Homo sapiens: one gene and its partners. The protein of the gene in region 2 interacts with the protein of the main gene of each other region in a pairwise test. Each region holds a gene or a part of one and is shown on either strand. Other genes may lie near its edges.

The links. Proteins that work in one complex are often made in the same cells at the same time.
Region 1: the proteins of ATXN2 (region 2) and STOML2 interact in binary tests that used the Homo sapiens proteins (3 or more experiments, as listed by UniProt).
Region 3: the proteins of ATXN2 (region 2) and G3BP1 interact in binary tests that used the Homo sapiens proteins (3 or more experiments, as listed by UniProt).
Region 4: the proteins of ATXN2 (region 2) and DDX6 interact in binary tests that used the Homo sapiens proteins (3 or more experiments, as listed by UniProt).

Annotation. Positions count from the first base shown.
Region 1 is NC_000009.12:35,099,480-35,105,494, forward strand, and holds STOML2 (stomatin-like protein 2, mitochondrial), read right to left. Parts: upstream 3,653-6,015; 5' UTR 3,616-3,652; coding exon 3,571-3,615; exon of another isoform or gene 3,345-3,570; coding exon 3,207-3,344; exon of another isoform or gene 2,716-3,206; coding exon 2,616-2,715; exon of another isoform or gene 2,484-2,615; coding exon 2,425-2,483; exon of another isoform or gene 2,333-2,424; coding exon 2,231-2,332; exon of another isoform or gene 2,082-2,230; coding exon 1,947-2,081; exon of another isoform or gene 1,801-1,946; coding exon 1,656-1,800; exon of another isoform or gene 1,533-1,655; coding exon 1,453-1,532; exon of another isoform or gene 1,248-1,452; coding exon 1,119-1,247; exon of another isoform or gene 694-1,118; coding exon 556-693; 3' UTR 299-555; downstream 1-298. Other genes in the region: ATOSB (atos homolog protein B), read right to left, coding at 5,742-5,895. UniProt on the Homo sapiens protein: Mitochondrial protein that probably regulates the biogenesis and the activity of mitochondria.
Region 2 is NC_000012.12:111,452,718-111,456,897, forward strand, and holds part of ATXN2 (ataxin-2), read right to left. Parts: intron 3,540-4,180; coding exon 3,312-3,539; intron 2,403-3,311; coding exon of another isoform or gene 2,328-2,402; intron 1,129-2,327; coding exon 960-1,128; intron 124-959; coding exon 95-123; 3' UTR 1-94. UniProt on the Homo sapiens protein: Involved in EGFR trafficking, acting as negative regulator of endocytic EGFR internalization at the plasma membrane.
Region 3 is NC_000005.10:151,787,927-151,793,305, reverse strand, and holds part of G3BP1 (ras GTPase-activating protein-binding protein 1), read right to left. Parts: intron 2,984-5,379; coding exon 2,902-2,983; intron 2,418-2,901; coding exon 2,244-2,417; intron 1-2,243. UniProt on the Homo sapiens protein: Protein involved in various processes, such as stress granule formation and innate immunity. Plays an essential role in stress granule formation.
Region 4 is NC_000011.10:118,762,813-118,768,191, forward strand, and holds part of DDX6 (probable ATP-dependent RNA helicase DDX6), read right to left. Parts: intron 2,544-5,379; coding exon 2,397-2,543; intron 495-2,396; coding exon 400-494; intron 1-399.

The sequences.
Region 1 (6,015 bases), on a different chromosome or scaffold from region 2:
ATTTTTGTAATCCAGTGTCTAGTAATGAGCTTGGCACTTGGTAGACATTCAATGTTTTTGAATAAATGAATGAGGAGCACCCTCAGTCCCTGAAAACCCTTTAAGTATGCCAGTGCAGGGTAGTAGTTTCTCATGAAAGTACTTCTTTCCCACGAAAAAACCCCCAAACACCTGCCTCAAACACACAGCCCCACACTTAGCAGGAAGGGGACTTCACTTCCCAGCCAGCAGTTCAGTGAACATATGGTTTAACACTTCCACCCTATCCCACAGTTTCTCTTGAAGACAAAAATGATAGTTTCACTTTACAAGAAGTTCACTCTTATTCATGGAGGCATCATGCTGACAGGACTGGATCCAAGGAAAATGCTAGTGACTTTCCCAACTTCATTCCCCAATCAAAGAGGACAGTTTCTGGTTTGCCACTGGTGAGTTTATTACACGACTAAAGTTCAAATAAAAAAATAAAAACCAAAATCTTGGCAGGGAAGCTAGAGCCAGAATCAGGAAAATCTGCTTCCTTGTTCCCAGACTCCCTGGCCAAGCCCAGCTCCACTAACTCATCTTGACTCGATCAAGTTCCTCATCAAGACTTGCATCTGTACCCTGGACATCTCTGCTGCTCCCACTGGAGAGTGAGTCTGGAGTCCCTGGCACTGGGGCTTTGGTGAGGGCTCCATATACACCCATGGCCTGAGGAGAGGAACAGAGAGAATACCATGAGGACACTTGACAGAGGTGCAGCCCAGCCTACCAATGGCTAAACGGGAAAAGATGGCATGGGGGCCAGTAAGTTGGTTTTCCTTTCTCCCTCTCTCAAACCTGTCTTGTAAGCTCTGGAGTTGATTTTAGGAATCTTGCAAACCATCAGAGTAAAGTGACTCTCAGAATACCAGCACAAGTATCTACCAAAAAAAGGTATCTCAAGAACTTCCATATTTGCAGGACTGAGTGGAGATGTTTCATTCTTAGATTCCATCTCTACAAAGAATGAAGGGAGGTCTAGGGCCAAGGCACTCTGAAGACCTTTATGGTATGTAAGTGTTGATGACGGTGGTGGGGTCTCAGTTTGGTCCCTGGCACCAGTGCTCTATGCTGGGTCCTCAGAGAGCTCTAACCTGAGCCACCATGCTGGTGACATCGCCAGGGTTGGAGGGCAGTAGGATAGTGTTGGAGTCCTTGGCCAGTTTGGAGAACGCGCTGACATACTGCTCGGCCACAGTCAGTGAAGCTGCTGCATCTCCATTCTGTGATCACAGGGGGATAAAAATCAGAGATCACCGATACGGAGAAGAAGGGGGGGATGGGGAATGAAGAAAGCAGTTCACAATAAAAAGGACCATGTAATCTGGCTCAACAGAGCCCACAGAGGCGGAACTCTCCTCAAGCGTAGATAAGAGAACCCCTTCCACTGTCAATTCCTGTCCCCATTCCCACCCAGGGGCCTCTCACATGTTGTGTCAGAGCTGCAGCCAGGATTCGAATAGCTTCAGCTTTAGCCTTGGCCTTCGCCAGAACTGCACTGGCCTCTCCTGCAAGAGAAGGGACAGAGCTTGCTTGACCCATGAAGTCAAAGTACCCCAAAGATCCTGCCCCAGCACCAATCTTCAAAGGCCCATGCCTTGCTCCTCCCTCAGCCTCTACCCTCTCCTGACCTGCTGCCTGATTTATCTGTTCAGCCTTTTCTGCTTCGGAGGCCAGGATCTGGGCCTGTTTCTTCCCTTCTGCCACATTGATGGCCGACTCTCGGGTCCCCTCAGACTCTAGAACTGTGGCCCGTTTCCGCCGCTCTGCCTCCACCTGGAAGCCCACAACAATCCCAATCAACAAGCCAAGGGAGACTGATACAGACATGCAACTCTACCCATCATAACAGGAGGGAAGTCTGGATCCTCCTGGTACTGGAGCACCCTGAGGCCCTTTTCCCACCCCTCCTTGGCCCCCACCTGCATCTGCATAGACTCTTTCACCCGGGGTGGCACATGGATATCCTTGATCTCATAACGGAGGCAGCGGATACCCCAGCAGTCAGCAGCTTGGTTGATGGCATCCACAATGCTGGCATTCAGGGACTCCCGTTCCTGGAAAAAGAGGTGTAAGCCCCACAGCCTCAACCTACCTATCAAGGGCCTACACTGAGAAGGGCCTGGGACTGATCTTGACCTTCAGAAAAGATTAAGAGTGTCAGGTTTGTGTCTTCAAACCCTAACTCTGGCTCAGATCTGCTTACCCGGAAGACTTTGTCCAGAGAGAGTTTGCCGAGCTCTGATCTCATGGTTGTTTGAGCTAGCTGGGTGACGGCATACTCAGGGTCCTCCACACCGTAGCTTGCCTGAGATGGACACGGATAGTGTAAGAAGCTTGGGCACAAGATTTTAGTGAAGAGGGCAACTCAAAAGGCTGGATAAAGTAGGGGACAGGTACCTTGTAAGGGTCCATGATGCGCAGGTAAAGGACTCCATCGATTTGCAGAGTTACATTGTCTGTAGAACCAGGAGAGAAAACGGGGAAAGTCAGGCCTCTAGGTCCCAACCAGTTCTTTCTACTAAGCTCTGGATCTACAGCAACCACATCCTAATAGCCTCAGAGCACCCATGTCACCCTGAACCCCTCACCGAGAGTCACAGCCGACTGCTCAGGCACGTTGATGACAATTTCCTTGAGACTCTGCACATATCGGATCCGGTCTAACACAGGGATGAGGATGTTCAAACCCTGGAAAGAGGAGTCATGGGTCCTCAGAAGGCTGGGAACTATTGGGTTGGGACCTAAGCTAGTCCTGGAGTATGTAGGGAGTCAACACATGGAACATGCCCAGAAAAGCAGCAGCTCCTACCAAGAAATAAGTCCTCAGAAGGCTGAGGTGTCACTGGTAAGAAAACCCAAGAGAACAGGAATGCAAGACTAGGCCCCTGAATGGAGGGGAGAGTCATGAGAATCGGAGCCAGCAGAATAGCCATCTCTATGCAGACTGAGAGGTAGGGCTGAGAGTGGGCAGGGGAGATTCCCAAGAATGGGGCCTGTGAGATGCATAGGAAAAGGTGGTAACATGGGGATGATGGTCAGCAGCCTGGGCCCTGTCAGGTCTGGCCTACAGAGTCGGGAGCTAACAGTGCGGGCAGGCCCAAAGGAAGTCCTCCCGACATTGCATGTCGTGAGGGATTGGTCATCTGGCTGGCCCAGGGTGGGCAGAAGAGGTTTCTCACAGGCTCCAGGATCCGGTGGAATCGGCCCATTCGCTCCACCACCCAGGCCTCCTGCTGCGGCACGAACAGTACCACGGTGTTTCGGGGCAATCCAGAGGAGGCGCGGCGCGGAGCGCGGCCAGAAGCCAGTAGAGAGCCCTGAAGGAAAGAAGAGGGTGAGCAGAGATCCCATCTGGCCAGACACGCCGCCCCTCGGTCCTGAAGGCATCTCCATAAACCACGACCCTCAGGATCCTCGGAGAATCACATGGGGACCATGACCTCTGACCCCAGTCCTCTCCAAAAGTTGGAATTTCGCTCTTTTCCAGCGGAGAACCCAGGTAATCTCTGTCCTGACCCTCTGGAAAGGTTGCCTCGCTCTCACCCTCAGCAAAAGGGCCCCAGTGCCCCGCGCCGCGCGCGCCAGCATTTCCCACCGCCGCAGCGACCTCCGGAACCAACGAGACGAGCGGAGCGGTCGCTCCCAGAAGCCTACCCGAGCCTTTCCTCTTGCAGTTCCGCTCCCCCGGATGTACTTCCGGCAGCTCCCTCCCCCGCTTCAACACTCACCCAATCAGCGTTACTTGGTCGAACGGCGCGTCAAGTTGTTCCCTGGGAAACGCAGACCTTCTAGAGAAGGGCGAAGGCTGTGGTTGTTCTGGGTTTAGCTGTTCACGCCGAAGATCCCCGGCCTGATGGCCAAAATGGAGGCTATTTTTCGCGGGCATTATCACTCAGACACCACGCACTGAATTATTCGTCCTCACCCGAGACTCAGTTTGCCCACCAGAGCGTAGTATCGCCCCCATCTGTCACCATAGCGACTAGTGGATTGGAGCTGACTCGTTGCCATGGTTGCCATAGTGATATTCTCTGGTAGTCCCGCTGTGTTGTGCCCAGGACTCCCACTGGGGACTGACCCCAATCCCGTTGCCATGGAAACTGGGCCTAATATTGCCTGGCGATTGGGCCGAGATTTTCCCCTCCCCTCTTTCCTCAAAGACACTGCAGCTCCTTCCCTGTCTTCCCAAGCAAGGTTTGTTATGCCCGGTCTTAAATACAGTCCAGCAAACAGCCTCAACGTTCAACCTTGTCTGGAGCATGTCACCTTGCCCACATCCCTAATGCTCTGGTAGTCAAGAGACCTCCGTAGTCACCTCCATTTTACATATGAGGGCACTGAAGTTCTGAGGGGCTAAAGTCATTAATAGAACCAGTATTAGAATCCTGATCTACAATTCAGAGTTCAGCTTCTACGGCTGAACTTTACCCACCAACCCCTCCGAAAGGAGAAAAACCAGGCCCCAGGAATCAGCAGGGACTAGCCTAAGACCTCATGGGCCCAGGCCTGTTGCCTCTCTGGTAGAAAGGGCTGAGTCCCAGCTCCAGGAAGGCCCTCCATCCCCCTTCACACCCTCTCCCCAACAACAACAACAACAACAAAAGTAGAGCTTAGTTCAAGTTTCCAAACAAGAATTTATTCTTTCTTTTTTAATCTTTTTTTCTAAAAAAAAGTACCAGGTACAATTTTTTCCTGTTTTTGATTTGCTTTGTTTTTTCAAGTTTCAGCAAATGCTTGTTCCCCTCAGCCCAGCCCCAGGAGTTAGGACTGAGGCTGGGTCAGAGTCTGGAGTGGGGAATGGGGTAGTTTGGAACCACATGACTGAGTTTGAGGGGTGCCCCTCACCCCAGCTGAGGTAGGTGGGTCAGAGTCTGGCCAGGTGAGAGGAGGCACCCCAGTGCTTGGCCCTGACTCTGCCCCCTGGACACCTTCTTCAGTCAGGACCCCAAAACAAGGAGACACAGGTAGGAGGAGAGGGACAACTGGAGTCTGGAGCCCTAGGTGAGGGGTGGTTAACCCCTGTGTGTGTGCATACATGCACACTCACACACACATACCACACAAAGACAAGCTTGTGCACACACACATACGCATAACTTGGCTTTCAGAGATAGGTCAGAGGGTAGGGGAAGTGAAGGGACTGGGGAAGGACAGGGGAAGCTGAGTCTTTGGCTACTGACTCAGTCCCTCTGGAATAGCCCCTCTTCCCTCAGCTGAGGGAAAGCAGTTCTCCTCCTGCCCCCACCGCATAAGCCTCTTCAACTCCTGAGGTTGGAGCAATATCTGAGAGTGGGAAGCGGGGAGGAGTGATGCCAATTATCAGGTGTGGGAGGTTACCAAGGCAATCCAATTTGAATAAATTATAAATTAAAAATAAATAAAATAACAAGTGGCCCCTGCCCAGGACAGGGAGGCAACGCTGGCATAACTTGCCTGGGAACTTGAGAAAATCTCAGGGTAGCTCCAGTTCCTCCCTACTACCTAAGCTGGCCTGGGAAACCCAAGGGAGGGGACAGGCACATGGAGTACCCGAAGTAGGGCAGGGTGTAGTAAGAATCAGAAGCTTTAAACACCCAAATAATCCATTTGGGCGTGAGCATGGTGAGGGCTTTAATTCAAGCCTGAAGGGTCTCTTGCTGTCTCTCCATATATGTTCTCTAAGATGGAGCAGGATGGGCAGGTCATTAGCCCGCATGGGTTCAGAGTGCTGGCAATCAGGGCAAAGGTGAATAACGTGGATTATGAGGGGCCTCGGTCACAGCCTGCAGTTCGTAGGGGAGCCCTGTGTCCAGCTCCAGGCTCCGGCGGGAAAAAAGCAGGCGGATATCTCCATGCAGGCTTAAGCGGCCTGAGCGGGAGCTCCGGAACCTGGAGGAGGACAATGTGATCAACGTAAGAATCCAGGCTGGGTTCAGTGGCTCATGCCTGTAATTCCAGTGCTTTGGGAGACCCAGGTGGGAGGACTGCTTGAGCCCAGGAGTTGGAGAC
Region 2 (4,180 bases):
AAAATAAATGAAATTCTAGTTTTCTGTGCTTCCAGTTGGTAGAAGCAGTAGAAGGGAGGAGGGAATTTGGCCTTTCGGTTCCTCCAGGGCAGCCTTACAACTGCTGTTGGTGGTGGGCTTGTACTGTAAAAAGAAAAGCGAACATTGAAACAGAAAACTGGCAACACCACACATCAGCCTAGTGTCTCTGCAGCACATGATTGTAAACTATCCTCGTGCTAGCTGAACAAAACTCAAAATTGAATTCGCTTTTCCCCCTCCCATCTGCACCAAAGTGGGGAGGGTTGGGTGGGTGGGTAGAAACAAACCAGTCAGACGTAAAACCACTTCAGATAAAACTCCCAGAAGACTTGTTCATGGGGTAGAAAAAAAGGCCTTAACAAACCCCCTCCCCAAATATTAGCCAAGCACCAGTATTGCTTTCAGAATAACAGGTCAGACTGTGAAGTATCGCCATGGCAGCCATCAAGTAGTAGAGCACAATCACAGGGCGCTCTCCCCTGTTCAGGGGCTGGGGCTAACGCTACACTCAAAGCCAGTCCATCCACAGCGCTTTCTCAGCAGTATCTTCTCCAGAGCTACAATCAAACTCTGCCATGGTAATAACCCCCCACATGTCAGACTTTTGGGACTCAGGAAGGAAAACACTGCCCTGTCCAGCCTGTCATAACAAGGAAGGCCAACTGAGTCCTAGGCATGCATCAGGCTGCTGTTGCTGCTGCTGCTGCTTCTCATCAAGCCAAATCCTGTATACCATCAGAACACACACAGACTCGGCTCCCGGAAGCCTCAGGCCCTGATGCTGAACTGATCGTCACAGTCCCTCCTGTGCACACTCCTGGACGGGTCTTGCTAGTTCTCAAATGCGGGGCTTGAAGCACTGGCCCTGCCTGCCATTCCACCTGTGCGAGCAGAATGCTTTGGGGTGCCCCGGCGGCCCCTGCACACACACGCCTCACCTGAAGGGTGCGTCATATAGGGGAAATGCGCTGTTGTCGAGACTGGAATGGGCTGTAGTGCACTTTGAGCGAGGGCGGCCTGGGGACCGCCGGGTGGCTGTGTCGTCATTAGCATCATTGGCGCATGGGCAGTTGGATGAGAAGGAACCATTCCTGACTGTACATGAGCCTGAAACAGAGAGCTCTTTTACGCATACAGGCAACATCTCCGGCTTCAACAACATGTCAACTGTGTTCCTTTCACTGGGCTGGGACTCTCAGGAAAGGGCAACGGTGGGCCTCAGGGCCCAGTTCTGTTCTCTGGGGACAATCTCTAGTAGATTATCTATTGACCTGAAGACGCGCTTCACCTTTGGGCAGATCCTGCAAGGGTCAGGGAGCAGGCAACAAGTGAGCCTGGGTAGAAGTCAGGGCTGTGCTGTCCTAACCCTTGACATTTCTGATCATTGTATTCTATGTATGGGGTAAGATCTTCACAAAGATTAGACACTGGATCCAAGGGCAGCTTTCTCAACTTAATATCATACAAGATTCAATGATGCTTCAGAATCAGGCTGCCATGTGGGGCCTGAGGTAGTTTTGCAGATAACATCCCTTTCAAATAGGAAAACAGATTACATTAATAAGCAGAGACTGTCACAGTCAAGTATGTGAATTACTTGGACCTCTGTTCATTTGCCTCTCTCCCTCTGCTTCTGGTCTGCTCACCAGGCAGTGAAAAGAGACTCTTAGGCCCCCGTGACTCTCTCAGAGATATGCTGATGGAGCAGGAGGAGGAGGAGGAGTTGGAGTTTTTAATGGCTCCAGTGAGATGGAAAGGAGTAACCTGAAGTCATCTGGGCCAGCCCAGCGTCTCTGTACCAAGTTCAACCTGGTCTCACTCACTGTCAAGTTGGAAAGGTGATTTTAGTCAGCCCAAACAGCTGGATTCCAGCTCTGCAGGGGGTTGGCAGGGCCAGGAAGAGCCCTTGTTTCCTTTTTCCCACACTGTGCACTGTTCTAGACTACGATAAGCCTTGGATGAAATGCCGTTTTTACTCTCACATATTCAAACGGGCACATGGCAAATTTGAGCTTCCCTGTGTTAACCTTTTTGCCCTTTCAGCACAAAAACAGAGTGAGGTTTTAGGGATCCCTGACTTACATGTAAGTTCACATGCCTACTTAGCCACCAGCCTCTGGTAGACACCTACAGGACCCCAGCTCTTATGAAGCTGACTCCACCAAACCACGCTGGCCCACACGGACCAAACCGGCTTCCCTCCCCACTATCAAAAAGCAAATCAACTGCAGTGCGCTACACCACAGAACCTAAACTTTGCAGGGTGAGGACGCCCAAACTTCCCAGAGCTGTGGAACTCTACTTACAAGGTAGCCTTCTGAGAGATAGATCCAACTGAGTCGCATCTCTAGCCCACACCTTGCCAGAGCCTCACTGGCGCACTATTTAACAGGAAATGGAATTCATTGTGGCAGGTCTCACTTAGACCCGCCTCAGAGAGTTCTGTTATGAAAGTAGCAGAGACATCTAATACAGCCAATTCACCCGTAACAGCCCCAGGGAGGGCCTCAAGGCCAGCGTTAGAGCCCAACTTCAGTGCAGCTCCTTCTCCTCATTAAGACAATCCCCTGGGCCCTGGAGTGCAGGGACCTTTGTCAGCAGCTGATGCAGACAGCAACCACTGAGATGGCAAGCACACCTTTCACCTGTAGCAGCTTACACTGGAGGTGAGCTCCAAAGTGCTTCCAGGGCTGCTCTTAAAGAAAAATGGGACCACCTGGGTGCTTCCAGCTTCTAGTTACACTGCACCAATGTCCAAGGCCAAGCCCTCTCAAGAGTACAACTTATGGTCAAAGCAGATATATGGATAACCAGGGAAAACAATTGGAGAGATGTGTCTGGAACTCATGTGAGTAACAATCAAGTTGACAGGCCCCGGTAGTCACTTCGGAGAGCTGAGACTCTGTGAAGGCCATCATCCCTGCCTGGCTTCCAAGGTAAGTGTGTAGGGGAATATATATGTACACATATATATAGTAGTGAGGCTATATAGACATAGCAAAGCAGACACAGAAAGGAAAGAAGGACTGGGTTGCATTCCAGAGTCAAAGATATTTTTAAGGTCTCAGTTGGAAAACTAAAGGACTGACCAATCAGCACCTTCACTGATCCCATGACAAAACCACACAAACATTCCCTTAGGGCCAGATCACGTGTATTTGAGAGGGAAAGGGAGACAGGCAAATGGCATGACACACAGGGTTTCCTAGCTGGGAGAGCCTCTAGCTGCTTACTGATAACCTTCACATTCTACTTGGCCTTCACAGAAAGTTGGCTAAAGCTGGTATTACCTGAGGTACGTGGGCCATGTGGGGTGGGTTGGTATACGCCGGCTGAACGTGAGAAGGATGGATCGTAAAGACAGTCTGTTGTGCTGCTGGGAAACTATTCTGTGGCGACTGCGTGTTGGAGGCAGGTGTCATGGAGGGTGGAGTTGGCGCAAGCCCCGCGTGGTAAATGGCTGACTGCTGCTGTGGACTGGCCAGATGGAGAGCCTGGGCGGCCTGGTGCTGATGGTGCTGCAAAGCGACAGGAAAGAATTGAGAGGAAAACTTCTTTAATGAAAAGCAGCCAAGGGATACCCACAAAGCTAAGCTTTGCACACTTGGGCCTATGATGAGGGTCACTGGAAAGTACAGGAGAATGTACAGGGTGGTAAGAGCAAGGCTGGAGGTGCCTCCCATCTGGACAACTCCTTTCTAGGGTACAGAAGCCTGATTCTCAGTCTGGCAGTTAGAAACTTCTGAGCATACATACTAAAGTCAAAAAAGACTACTGCCCCAGGGAACTGATAGATATCAAAGACATCTTTAACTGCCTCCATTAGCAAACATAATTCAAGAAGCTCATAGGAAAATAACCTCATCACATAAACCTTAGAAATTAAAAAGTCCCAAGCAAATAGGAATTTGCCTTATGAACTTTATGTTAAATTTGATTTTTCATTACTGCAAGTTTCCAGAGCTTATCCAATCACCTTATTATCAACATGTATCTTAAATGTGATTTTTTTTAATTTTTTATTTTTTTGAGACAGAGTCTCGCTGTTGTCCAAGCTGGAGTGCAGTGGCGCGATCTCTGCTCACTGCAAGCTCCGCCTCCCGGGTTCACGCCATTCTCCTTCCTCAGCCTCCCGAGAAGCTGGGACTACAGGCGCCCA
Region 3 (5,379 bases), on a different chromosome or scaffold from region 2:
GAAACCCCATCTCTACTAAAAATACAAAAATGAGACAGGCATAATGGCCCACACCTGTAGTCCCAGCTGCTAGGGAGGCTGAGGCGGGAGGATTGCTTGAACCCGGGAGGTGGAGGGTGCAGTAAGCCCAGACTGCACCTCTGCACTCCAGCCTGGGCGACAGAGTAAGACCTTGTCTCAAAAAAAAAGGCAATCATATTCCTAACTTCAGCAGATATTTAAAATTCCCCAAGTCTGTCTCCAAAAATATTGATATAAACACTCAAGGGTAGTGCAGCCTGAAAAAGATTGCTCGCAGTAGGTATAAGACACACCTGAGTGCAGATCCAATTATATATTATGAGTTATTCAGTTTCTAAGGCTGTTACTCCTCTGTAAAAAGAAAGGTACCAGCTAGGCACAGTGGCTCACTCCTGAAATCCCAACACTTTGGAGAGCTGAGGTAGGAGAACTGCTTAAGCCCAGGAGTTTGAGACTAGCCTGGGCAACAGTGAGTTTTTTGTAGAGTGAGTCTCCACAAAAGCAGAAACAAAAATCAGCCAGGAATGGTGGCCTGCACTTGTGGTCCCAGCTACTTAGGAGGCTCAGGTGGGATTATCATTTCAGCCCAGGCAGTCAAGGCTGCAGTAAGTCATGATCCTACCACTGCACTCCAGCCTGGGTAACACAGGGAGACTCTTCTCTCAAAAAACAAAAAAGAAAGATATCAACATATACCTCAATACTCTCTGTATTAAATGAGACAGTTTATATAATAGTGTATTATACTAAGAAGTTAGATACTTCCTTTAAAAGAAAAAAACTGTAATTAAACCTGTAATTCACAATCATACTCCATGTGATTCTTTGCATATTTAGAAGTCTACCACATCTTTACATTTTAATCTAAGCCTTCCTCTAAAAATTATGACTATAATTGGCTTCATGTAATTTTGCACAGACAAAAAGTTATCTCATATTCAAAGGTTAAAAGATTTTAGGCGTTTCAGGTTTGCTATCCTAAAAAGAAAACTTAAGATTAATGCTAGAGAAAACAATGATTTAATCAACAATTTCTTACTATGCCATTTCTATATACATGCTTAAGCAGACAGGATTCCTAACCTTGTTCAGTCTAGACCAATCCGGAAGAAAACACAAATGCAATCATTCAACATAAACTTGTCGTCCTTTCATAAGTATAACTAAAAAGAACCAGGCCTCCTTGAAGGAACAGCTGATTCAAGAATAGGGACTGGGCCAGGAACAGTGCAAGATGAACCTGGAAAATATTTTGCCATAAGTGTTCAAGAAAGATAAAAAGATAGAGAATCTCCCATCCTTCATTTACAAATCAAAAAGAGAAAAAATAAGGCTGGGCATGGTGGCTCACACCTGTAATCCCACTTTCGGAGGCTGAGGCAGGCAGATCACTTGAGGTCAGGAGTTAGAGACCAGCCTGACGAATATGGTGAAACCCCATCACTACTAAAAATACTAAAATCAGCCGAGTACGGTAGCACACGCCTATAGTCCCAGCTACTCGGGAGGCTGAGTCAGGAGGACAGCCTGAAACCAGGAGGCGGAGGTTGCAGTGGGCAGAGATGGAGCCACTGCACTCCAGCCTGGACGATACAGTGAGACTCCGTCTCAAAAAAAAAGAGAGAGAGAGAAAAGATATTTAACTTTACAGTGGCAAAACCTAACTAATCAAAATTCATATCACAACTAAATGACATAATATGCCTAATGTGAAGCACTGAATGACACCCATAAAGCATCCTACAAAAAAAGTGTGCTCTTCAAAAATGTCAATGCAATAAAAAAAAACAAAAGATTAAGGAACAAGTGCAGATTAGAAGAGACTAGAGACATGATAGCTAAATGCAATGTGTAATTATAGATTCCATGTTGGACAAGGAAAAAAAATTACTGTTAAGACATTATTGAGATAATTTCCAAATTTTAAAAATGGATTATAGATTATATTGCATCAACATTTCCTGAATTTGATAACTGTACTACAGAATGGAAGAGAATTATTCTTAGGAAATGCCCACTAAACTATTTTAGAGAAAGAATTATACACATGTGGGCAAGTGGTGACAGCTGCTCTAGGTAAGGAGTATATAGGAGTTAGTGTACTATTATTCCAAGTTTTCTGTAAGTCTGAAATTTCAAGTGTTTTTAAAGATATGCACAACAGTTCATTGTTTCTTTTTTCATGTATTGGATCACTACAAAATAATCATTCCTACACATACCTCAGGAGCAAGGACAAACGTTTGCATGAATCTCCTCAAAGCCTGGTTGTTGTTAGAGAGAAGCCCCATCACCTGGACTACCACACCATCATTTAGCGTGGCATGAGCATCAACATGGCGAATCTTGGTGTGGCAGTTGGTGAAGTTTTGTGACATCACTTTCCTGTGGATTTCCTTAAAAAAATAATAATAATAATAATAATCAACTGAGAATGCCTTAAAATTTAAATAACCTCCAACTAAAAAAAACCTTCCAACACAACACAAAGAGAATGTGTATATTTAAATTACAGGATATGCAGACTGAATTTTGATGTTTCTTTGTATACTCTATTCCCAGTGACCGCGCTTGAGTTTTTTAAATAACTGTCCTGAATTAACACACTTTTCAAAGTTTAGAAAAGATGATCCCCATGCTAAAGCCAATTATCTTCCAACACACAAAAGCTTTAGAATATATCATACAAAATTAACAAATCTGACATCACATAAGTATTTCAACAAATATATTAATCAAATAGTAATAAAACACATCAACTTTTACTAAAAAGTTGAGAAACTGGATCTTTATCAGCAAATCTATTAAGTATGATCCACTTCAATTTTATGAGTTATTTTCTACCTGCTTAACAGCCTAAATAAGGCTTGAAATGCTTACTTTCTGTCCGTAGACTGCATCTGCTGGCTTTCCATTTGAATCCAATCCCCCATGGACATAAGAAGAGTTCTTTCCATAAAATCTGTAAAATGGGAAGATGATTTACTTGTCATCTTCAAGTATCTTAAGTTTATTTTTCACGTCTGATACTGGCAAACTTTTTTTTTTTTTTTTGCAACGGGGTCTCATTCTGTCACCCAGGCTGGAGTGCAGTGATGCAATCATAGCTCATTGCAGCTTCGATGTGCCGGGGCTATGATCTTTGATGTGCACATTTTTTTTTTTTTTTTTTTTGCTCTTGCTGACCAGGCTGGAGTGCAATGGCACCTCAGCTTCCCAAAGTAGCTGGAACTACAGTCACATGCCACCATGCCTGGCTGATTATTTTTATTTAAGTAGAGATAAGGTCAACTATGTTGCCCAGGCTGGTCTCGAACTCAAACTCAAGCAATTCTACCTGCCTTGGCCTCCCAAAGTGCTGGAATTGTAGGTGTGAGTCACCGCGCCTGGCCCTGGCAGAAACGTTTTCTTTTTCATCTTTGTATGCAATCATCTCTGTATCCCCTACATGCCACTTGATCAACATTTGCTGAATGGGAATGGATTTGGTTCCAGGTTTCAGTGTAGGATGATACTGTTGGGAAGGATCTTGTAGTTTCATGTCAAGATGGCCACCAATACATAAGTTCCTATTTTCACTCAGGAAGAAAATGTGCGGTAAGGCTGGAACAGCTATCTTCTTCATAGACTTCAAGTGTCCTTTTATTAATGTATCTGAGAATAAGCGTGAGCGGTTCCCCTTAAACACCTAGTTCATGCAAGTGGTTTTAGAAGTACTTTTTAACTATTTCTGCTGATGCAATTAAGAATGTCAAAGTCAATTCCTCATGGTTTTCACCCATCTATGTCCTCCTTTGATCCATTTTCATTAAAACAATATTCTACCAGGAAAGCAACACACCAAAATGCTCTAATCCAGGGATAACCACTATTAAGATTTGACATTTGTCTTCCAGATAAATACATTTTTTTTTTTAAGACAGAGTCTTGTGCTGTTGCTCAGGCTGGAGTGCCATGGCGCAATCTTAGCTCACTGCAACCTCCGCCTTTTTTTGTATTTTTAGTATAGAGAGAAGGCTTTGCCATATTGGCCAGGCTGGTCTTGAACTCCTGACCTCAAGTGATCCGCCCACCTCAGCCTCTCAAAGTGCTAGAATTACAGGCATAAGCCACCATGCCTGGCCTATGCTTTTTTCTTTTTGTTATGTTTTATGTCAGTTTTATTCTATGGGGTAGAAAGAAATTAACCAAATATAAAAATACAAAAAAAGGCTGGGCACGGTGGCTCACGCCTGTAATCCCAACACTTTGGGAGGCCAAGGTGGGCGGATCACCTGAAGTCGGAAGTTCGAGACCAGCCTGACCAACACAGGGAAACCGTCTCCACCAAAAACACAAAATTAGCCAGGCATGGTGGCGCATGCCTGTAATCCTAGCTACTCGGGAGACTAAGGCAGGAGAACCACTTGAACCTGGGAGACAGAGGTTGTGGTGAGCCGAGATAGCGCCACTGCACTCCAGCCTGGTCAACAAGAGCAAAACTCTGTCTCCAGAAAAAAAAAGAGCCAGGCATGGTGGTGGTGCGCACCCATAGTCCCAGCTACTCAGGAGGCTGAGGCAGGAGGATCACCGGAACCTGGGAGGCAGAGGCTGCAGTGAGCTCTCACCACTGCATTCCAGGCTCGGTGACAGAGCGAGACTCCACCTACTAAAAATAAATAAATAAATAATACACACACACACACACACACACACACACACACACACACACATATAAACTTAGCTGGGCATGGTAGTGCATGCCTGTAGTCCTAGCTATGTAGGAAGCTGAGGCAGGAGGATCACTTGAGCCCTGGAGGTCAAGGCTGTAGTAAGCTATGATCTCACCACTGCACTCCAGCCTGGGCAACAGAGTAAGACTGTCTCAAAAAAAAAGAAAGAAAGGGTAAAAACAGCTTTGAGACTTGTTTTATCACTTAATAGTCATGTGCATATGTACCTGCAAATTTTTAACCCCTCTGAGTGTATCTGCAAAATGAAGTTAACTCTCTTACAATGCCCTACCTTTCAGTAAAGATTTTTGTAATGATCAGGAGGAAATGAGAAAAAATGTTCTGGAAATTTTAAAGCCTTAAAAAAAAACCCAATTACACCTGTAATCCCAGTATTTTGGAAGGCTGAAGCAGGCGAATTGCTTGAGCCCAGGAGTTCGAGATCAGCCTGGGCAACATGGTAAAACTGTCTCTACAAAAAATTAGCTGGGCGTGGTGGATTGCACCTCAGTCCCAGCTACTCAGGAGGCTGAGGTGGGAGGATCGTCTGAGCCCAAGAGTTCAAGGCTGCAGTGAGCTGTGACCTTGCCACTGCACTCCAGCCCGGGAGACAGCTGAGACTTAACTCTCTCTCTCTCTCTCACAC
Region 4 (5,379 bases), on a different chromosome or scaffold from region 2:
GAGATAATACATGTAACAGAGATTAAAAACCAAACAGTACAAAGTAGTATGCACAAAATGAGAAGAGACAATATATATTATATGCTTTTAAAAATTAATCACAGAGCAGAAAGAGACTTAGAATAAATTTGGCATTGAGGTTATTCACTCCTCTACTAAAAAATTAAAACCTAATGTCTGCTATCTCTAAGAAAAAGACAAAATGCTGAATTCCAATGAATGCCTATAATCTACTCCCTCTGACGGGTAAAACACATTTTATAAGCAAATTAATTTAAACTGATTGTTTATGTGTTTATTAGATCATAAACACAAGCAGCTTTTGCTTCATTCACTGGCAGTTATAAGCAAAGCACAGAAAAGTACAGAACAGTATAATGCCAAATGAAGAGACATTACCTCATCCAATACTATCATCTGGACATGATCAACCTTTGCTACTCCTTTCTTAATAAGATCCAGGATTCTCCCAGGGGTAGCAATCACCACGTGCACTATGCAAGATTTAGAAAACATACATTCTCATTAATTTTAATTTGAGCAAAGAGGATAAAGGTTTATAATATTACAGTCCTGAGCTGCTTAATGATAATTCTGAGAAATGCATTGCTATGTGATGGTATAGCCTACTCCATTGTATAGCTCCATTATAATCTTATGGGAACACCGACATACGTGCAGCCGTCACTGACCACAACATTGTATGCAGCACATGACTATCTTTTATTAGAAACAACTAGGCCGGGTGCAGTAGCTCATCCCTGTAATCCCAGTACTTTGGGAGGCCGAGGTGGGTGGATCACATGAGGTCAGGAGTTCGAGACCAGCCTGGCCAACACGGTGAAACCCTGTCTCTACTAAAAATACAAAAATTAGCTGGGTGTGGTGGTGGGAGCCTGTAATCCCAGCTACTCAGGAGGCTGAGGTAGGAGAATCGCTTGAACCCAGGAGGCAGACGTTGCAGTGAGCCGAGATCACACCACTGCACTCTAGCCAGAGCAACAGAGTAAGACTGTGTCTCAAATTAAAAAAAAAAAAAAAAAGAAAGAAAGAGAAGAAACACATTGTGTTATAGAGGTGGAAATAACACAAAAAGGCACAAAGATGTGTTTTAGGATAAAGACTTCCATTTCACCACAGGATGCTTAAAAAATATTTGTTTCACCTCTACATTGGGTGGGGTACAGCTTCCTAAATCACCTGCTGCTTTCAACAGTAGGCATACTTTCTTGTCTTAGGATAATTCTCAATTAATAGCAGAAGGCACACCAGACTTCTGACATAAGAGCAATGCCTCTAATCTAGAGCAGTGAGCCGAGTATTGTTAAAAGGATCAAACAAGATAATTTTTTAAAAACCTATGCAATACAAAGAATGTATCACATAATTATCATATATAATATTCTAACTAAAATCAAGATATAATTTTATATGAGTGATCTCATTCTTGCTGTTTTGTTACCTTTTTCCACTCGGCAATGTATCATGAAACCTCTTCATGAAAATGAATACAGGTCAACTTTACTCTTTAATGACTATGTAGAATCCTATTCAGATTATACCTTAACGTATTTAGTTAGCCAATCTCCTTCTAAGTTGGCCAATTTTTCGGCACGACAATACCACCCCATAGCAAACAACTTTGTACCTACAGCCCTGCATTTACCCAACTTTTTTCTTCAGGAAAGATTCTTAAAAATATACATTTATGGCCGGGCACGGTGGCTCACGCCTGTAATCCCAGCACTTTGGGAGGCTGAGGCAGGTGGATCACGAGGTCAGGAGATCGAGACCATCCTGGCTAATACGGTGAAACCCCGTCTCTACTAAAAACACAAAAATTTAGCCTGGCGTGGTAGCGGGAGCCTGTAATCCCAGCTATTCAGGAGACTGAGACAGGAGAATGGCCTGAACCTGGGAGGCGGAGATTGCAGTGAGTCAAGATTGCGCCTCTGCACTCCAGCCTGGGCAACAGAGCAAGACTCCATCTCCAAAAAAAAAAAAAATATACACACACACACACACATTATATATACATTTATAATTTTAAAATATACTCCCAAATTGCCCATGATAGAGATGTAAGTTTACACCCCCACATTTACAATGTAGCCTATTTGTCCACAAACTCACATTATCGTCTACTAATACTTTTAGCTTTACCAATTAAACAGGTAAAATTATTATAAACTTGCTGTTTTACAATTACTAATAAAGTCAAATATCGTTTTCAATTATGGTAATTTGTCTTTTTCGCTTGAATGCAGTGGTCATTTCCTTTTCTTACTGCAGTATTTCTGTTCCTTAATTCTTAAAAACAATTTTTAATAATTTACTGAAATACTTGTGACTAAAATAACAGAGAGCTACACTACCTTTTAGTAATCATTTCTTACCTGTATCATCAAGCCTCATTATGTCATCTCGTAAATTGGTTCCTCCTGTGGTTGCCATCACTTTGGCCCCTCCCATGTGTTTGCTGACCTGGATGCAAATTTGACTGACCTGTAGAGCAAGTTCTCTAGTGGGAACAATCACCATTGCTGAAACAGTATCAAGGAATATATAAGAAAATATGGGGTGAGGTGGGAGAACATGCTATACATCATTATTTACAAAATTTAAGAAGCTATAGAAATACTGCGCCTTATGATGCAGTGGCTCACACCTGTAACTGCACCTTATGATGCAGTGGCTCACGCCTGTAATCCCAGCACTCTGGGAGGCCAAGGTGGGCAGATCACCTGAGGTCAGGAGTTCGAGAGCAGCCTGACCAACATGGTGAAACCCCATCTGTACTAAAAATACAAAAATTATCCAGGCGTGGTGGCACGCACCTGTAGTCCCACCTACTCAGGAGGCTGAGGCAGGAGAATCACTTGAACCCGGAGGCAGAGGCTGCAGTGAGGCAAGATCGCGCCACTGCACTCCAGCCTGGGCGACAGAGTGAGACTCAGTCTCAAAAGAAAGAAAGAAAAAAAAAATAGCCTAGGCACGGTGGCTCACACCTACCTATAAGCCCAGCACTTTGGGAGGCCAAGGTGGGTGGATCACCTGAGGCCGGGAGTTTGAGACCAGCCTGACCCTATCTCTACTAAAAATACAAAATTAGCTGGGCGTGGGTGGCACATGCCTGTAATCCCAGCTACTTGGGAGGCTGAGGCAGAAGAATCGCTTGAACCCGAGAGGCAGAGATTGTGGTGAGCCGAGATTGTGCCACTGCACTCCAGTCCAGGCAACAAGAGCGAAACTCCGTCTCAAATAAAAAAAAAGAAAAGAAACACTGCCCCTTATAATCTAGATACCGAGATGTATTAAAAAATTGGGCTGGGCAGCACAGTGAGTAACTCATGCCTAGAATCCCAGCACTTTTGGAGGCTGAGGCAGGAGGATCGTTTGAGCTCAGGAGTTTAAGACCAGCCTGGGCAACATAGCAAGACCCCATCTCTACTAAAAAAAAAAATGAAAAAAATTAGCTGGGAATGGTGGCATGTGCCTATAGTCTCAGCTTCTGGGGAGGCTGAGGCAGGAGGATCACATCAGCCTGGGAGATTAAGACTGCATTAAGCTATGATCATGACACCACACTCCAGAATGGGTGACACAGCAAGACTCTGTCTCCCCCGCCAAAAAAATTAAGAAATAAAAATAAAAAGTTGAATCATTACACAGGACATTATGAAAACTCAAATGTACAAATCTCTTTATGAAAAGAGAACCTATTATAGTGTCCCAGATTTAGACTCTCCCTCAGCAATACTATTATATAAATATTAAACTCTTCCTCTTCTTTTTTTTGAGATGGAGTCTTGCTCTGTTGTCCAGGCTGAAGTGCAGTGGCTGCCATCTCGGCCCACTGCAACCTCTGCCTCCCAGGTTCAAGCAATTCTCCTGCCTCAGCCTACTGAGTAACCGCCACCACACCCAGCTAATTTTTTGTATTTTTAGTAGAGACGGGGATTCATCATGTTGGCCCAGCTGGTCTCAAACCCCTGACCTCAAGCAATCCTCCTGCCTTGGCCTCCCAAAGTGCTGGGATTACAGGTGTGAGTCACTGCACCTGGCCTTCTGCTGCTGCTGCTTCTTCGTTTTGAGACAGATCTCGCTCTGTTACCCAGGCTGGAGTGCAGTGACATGATCTTGGCTGACTGCAACCTCCACCTCCCAGGTTCAAGCAATTCTCCTGCCTCAGCCTCCTTGAGTAGCTGGGACTACAGGCACATGTCACCACACCCAGCTAATTTTTGTATTTTTAGTAGAGACAGGGTTTTACCATGTTAGCGAGGCTGGTCTTGAACTCCTGACCTCAGGTGATCTGCCTTGCCTCGGCCTCCCGAAGTGCTGGGATTACAGGCGTGAGCCACCACACCCAGCCAATACTGTTCTTAATTACAAACTTTCAGCATGTTGAGTTCGCAACTATTAGCTCAAAGTTTATTAACAATATTTCTAAAAGCCCCAACTACATTTGAGTCAGATTCACTGTGTAAAATACCTAGGTAGGAAACTCCTGCTACCTAGGCTCTATTTACATCATATGAAAGTGGGAAGAAAAGATAATTACAGATCACGAAAGCTAAAAATGTAAAGTTTCAGAGATGAAATCTTAATTCCATTAACTTACATTGAATATAACTATGAAAATTTTTTATTCCCCACTGCCTAGGCTCTTAAAATCCCAAAATCCACAGCCTTTAAACAGAAGTTCATGTTTCTACAAGGAATTCTGTTAACACTCATCTGCCACAAGAAATAGTTCCATAGTTTATAAGTAGCAATGTCAACTAATTTAACTTCTCATGACCTCAGCCGCCTTTTTTTTTTTTTTTTTTTTTTTGAGTTGAGAGTCTCACTCTGTCACCCAGGCTGGAGTGCAGTGGCACAATCTTGGCTCACTGCAACCTCCACCTCCTGGGTTCCAGTGACTCTCGTGCCTCAGACTTCTGAGTAGCTGGGATTACAGTTGTGCGCCACCATGCCCAGCTAATTTTTGCATTTTTAGTAGAGACAGGGTTTCGCAATGTTGGCCAGGCTGGTCTTAAATATCTGGCCTCAGGTGATCCACCCACTTTGACCTCCCAAAGTGCTGGGATTACAGGCTGTGAGGCACCGTGCCCAGCCTCAGCTTTCCTACCTATAGGGCACTAATACTTATTTTTCCTGTCTCACTGGAATGCTGTCACAAGTGTGTATCATATAAGAATACTCTTAAAACTAGAAATCTCTAAAAAGCTGGGAATCATTTTTAATAAAAAGACCATCATCAGGCTAAAAAAAGAAAAAACCTGAAAAGAAAGAATACAAATTTTAGATAATGTAAATTCTGACTAAAAAAAGAGTATCTTCTACACATGGCTCCAAGGCTGAAACTCCCATTTT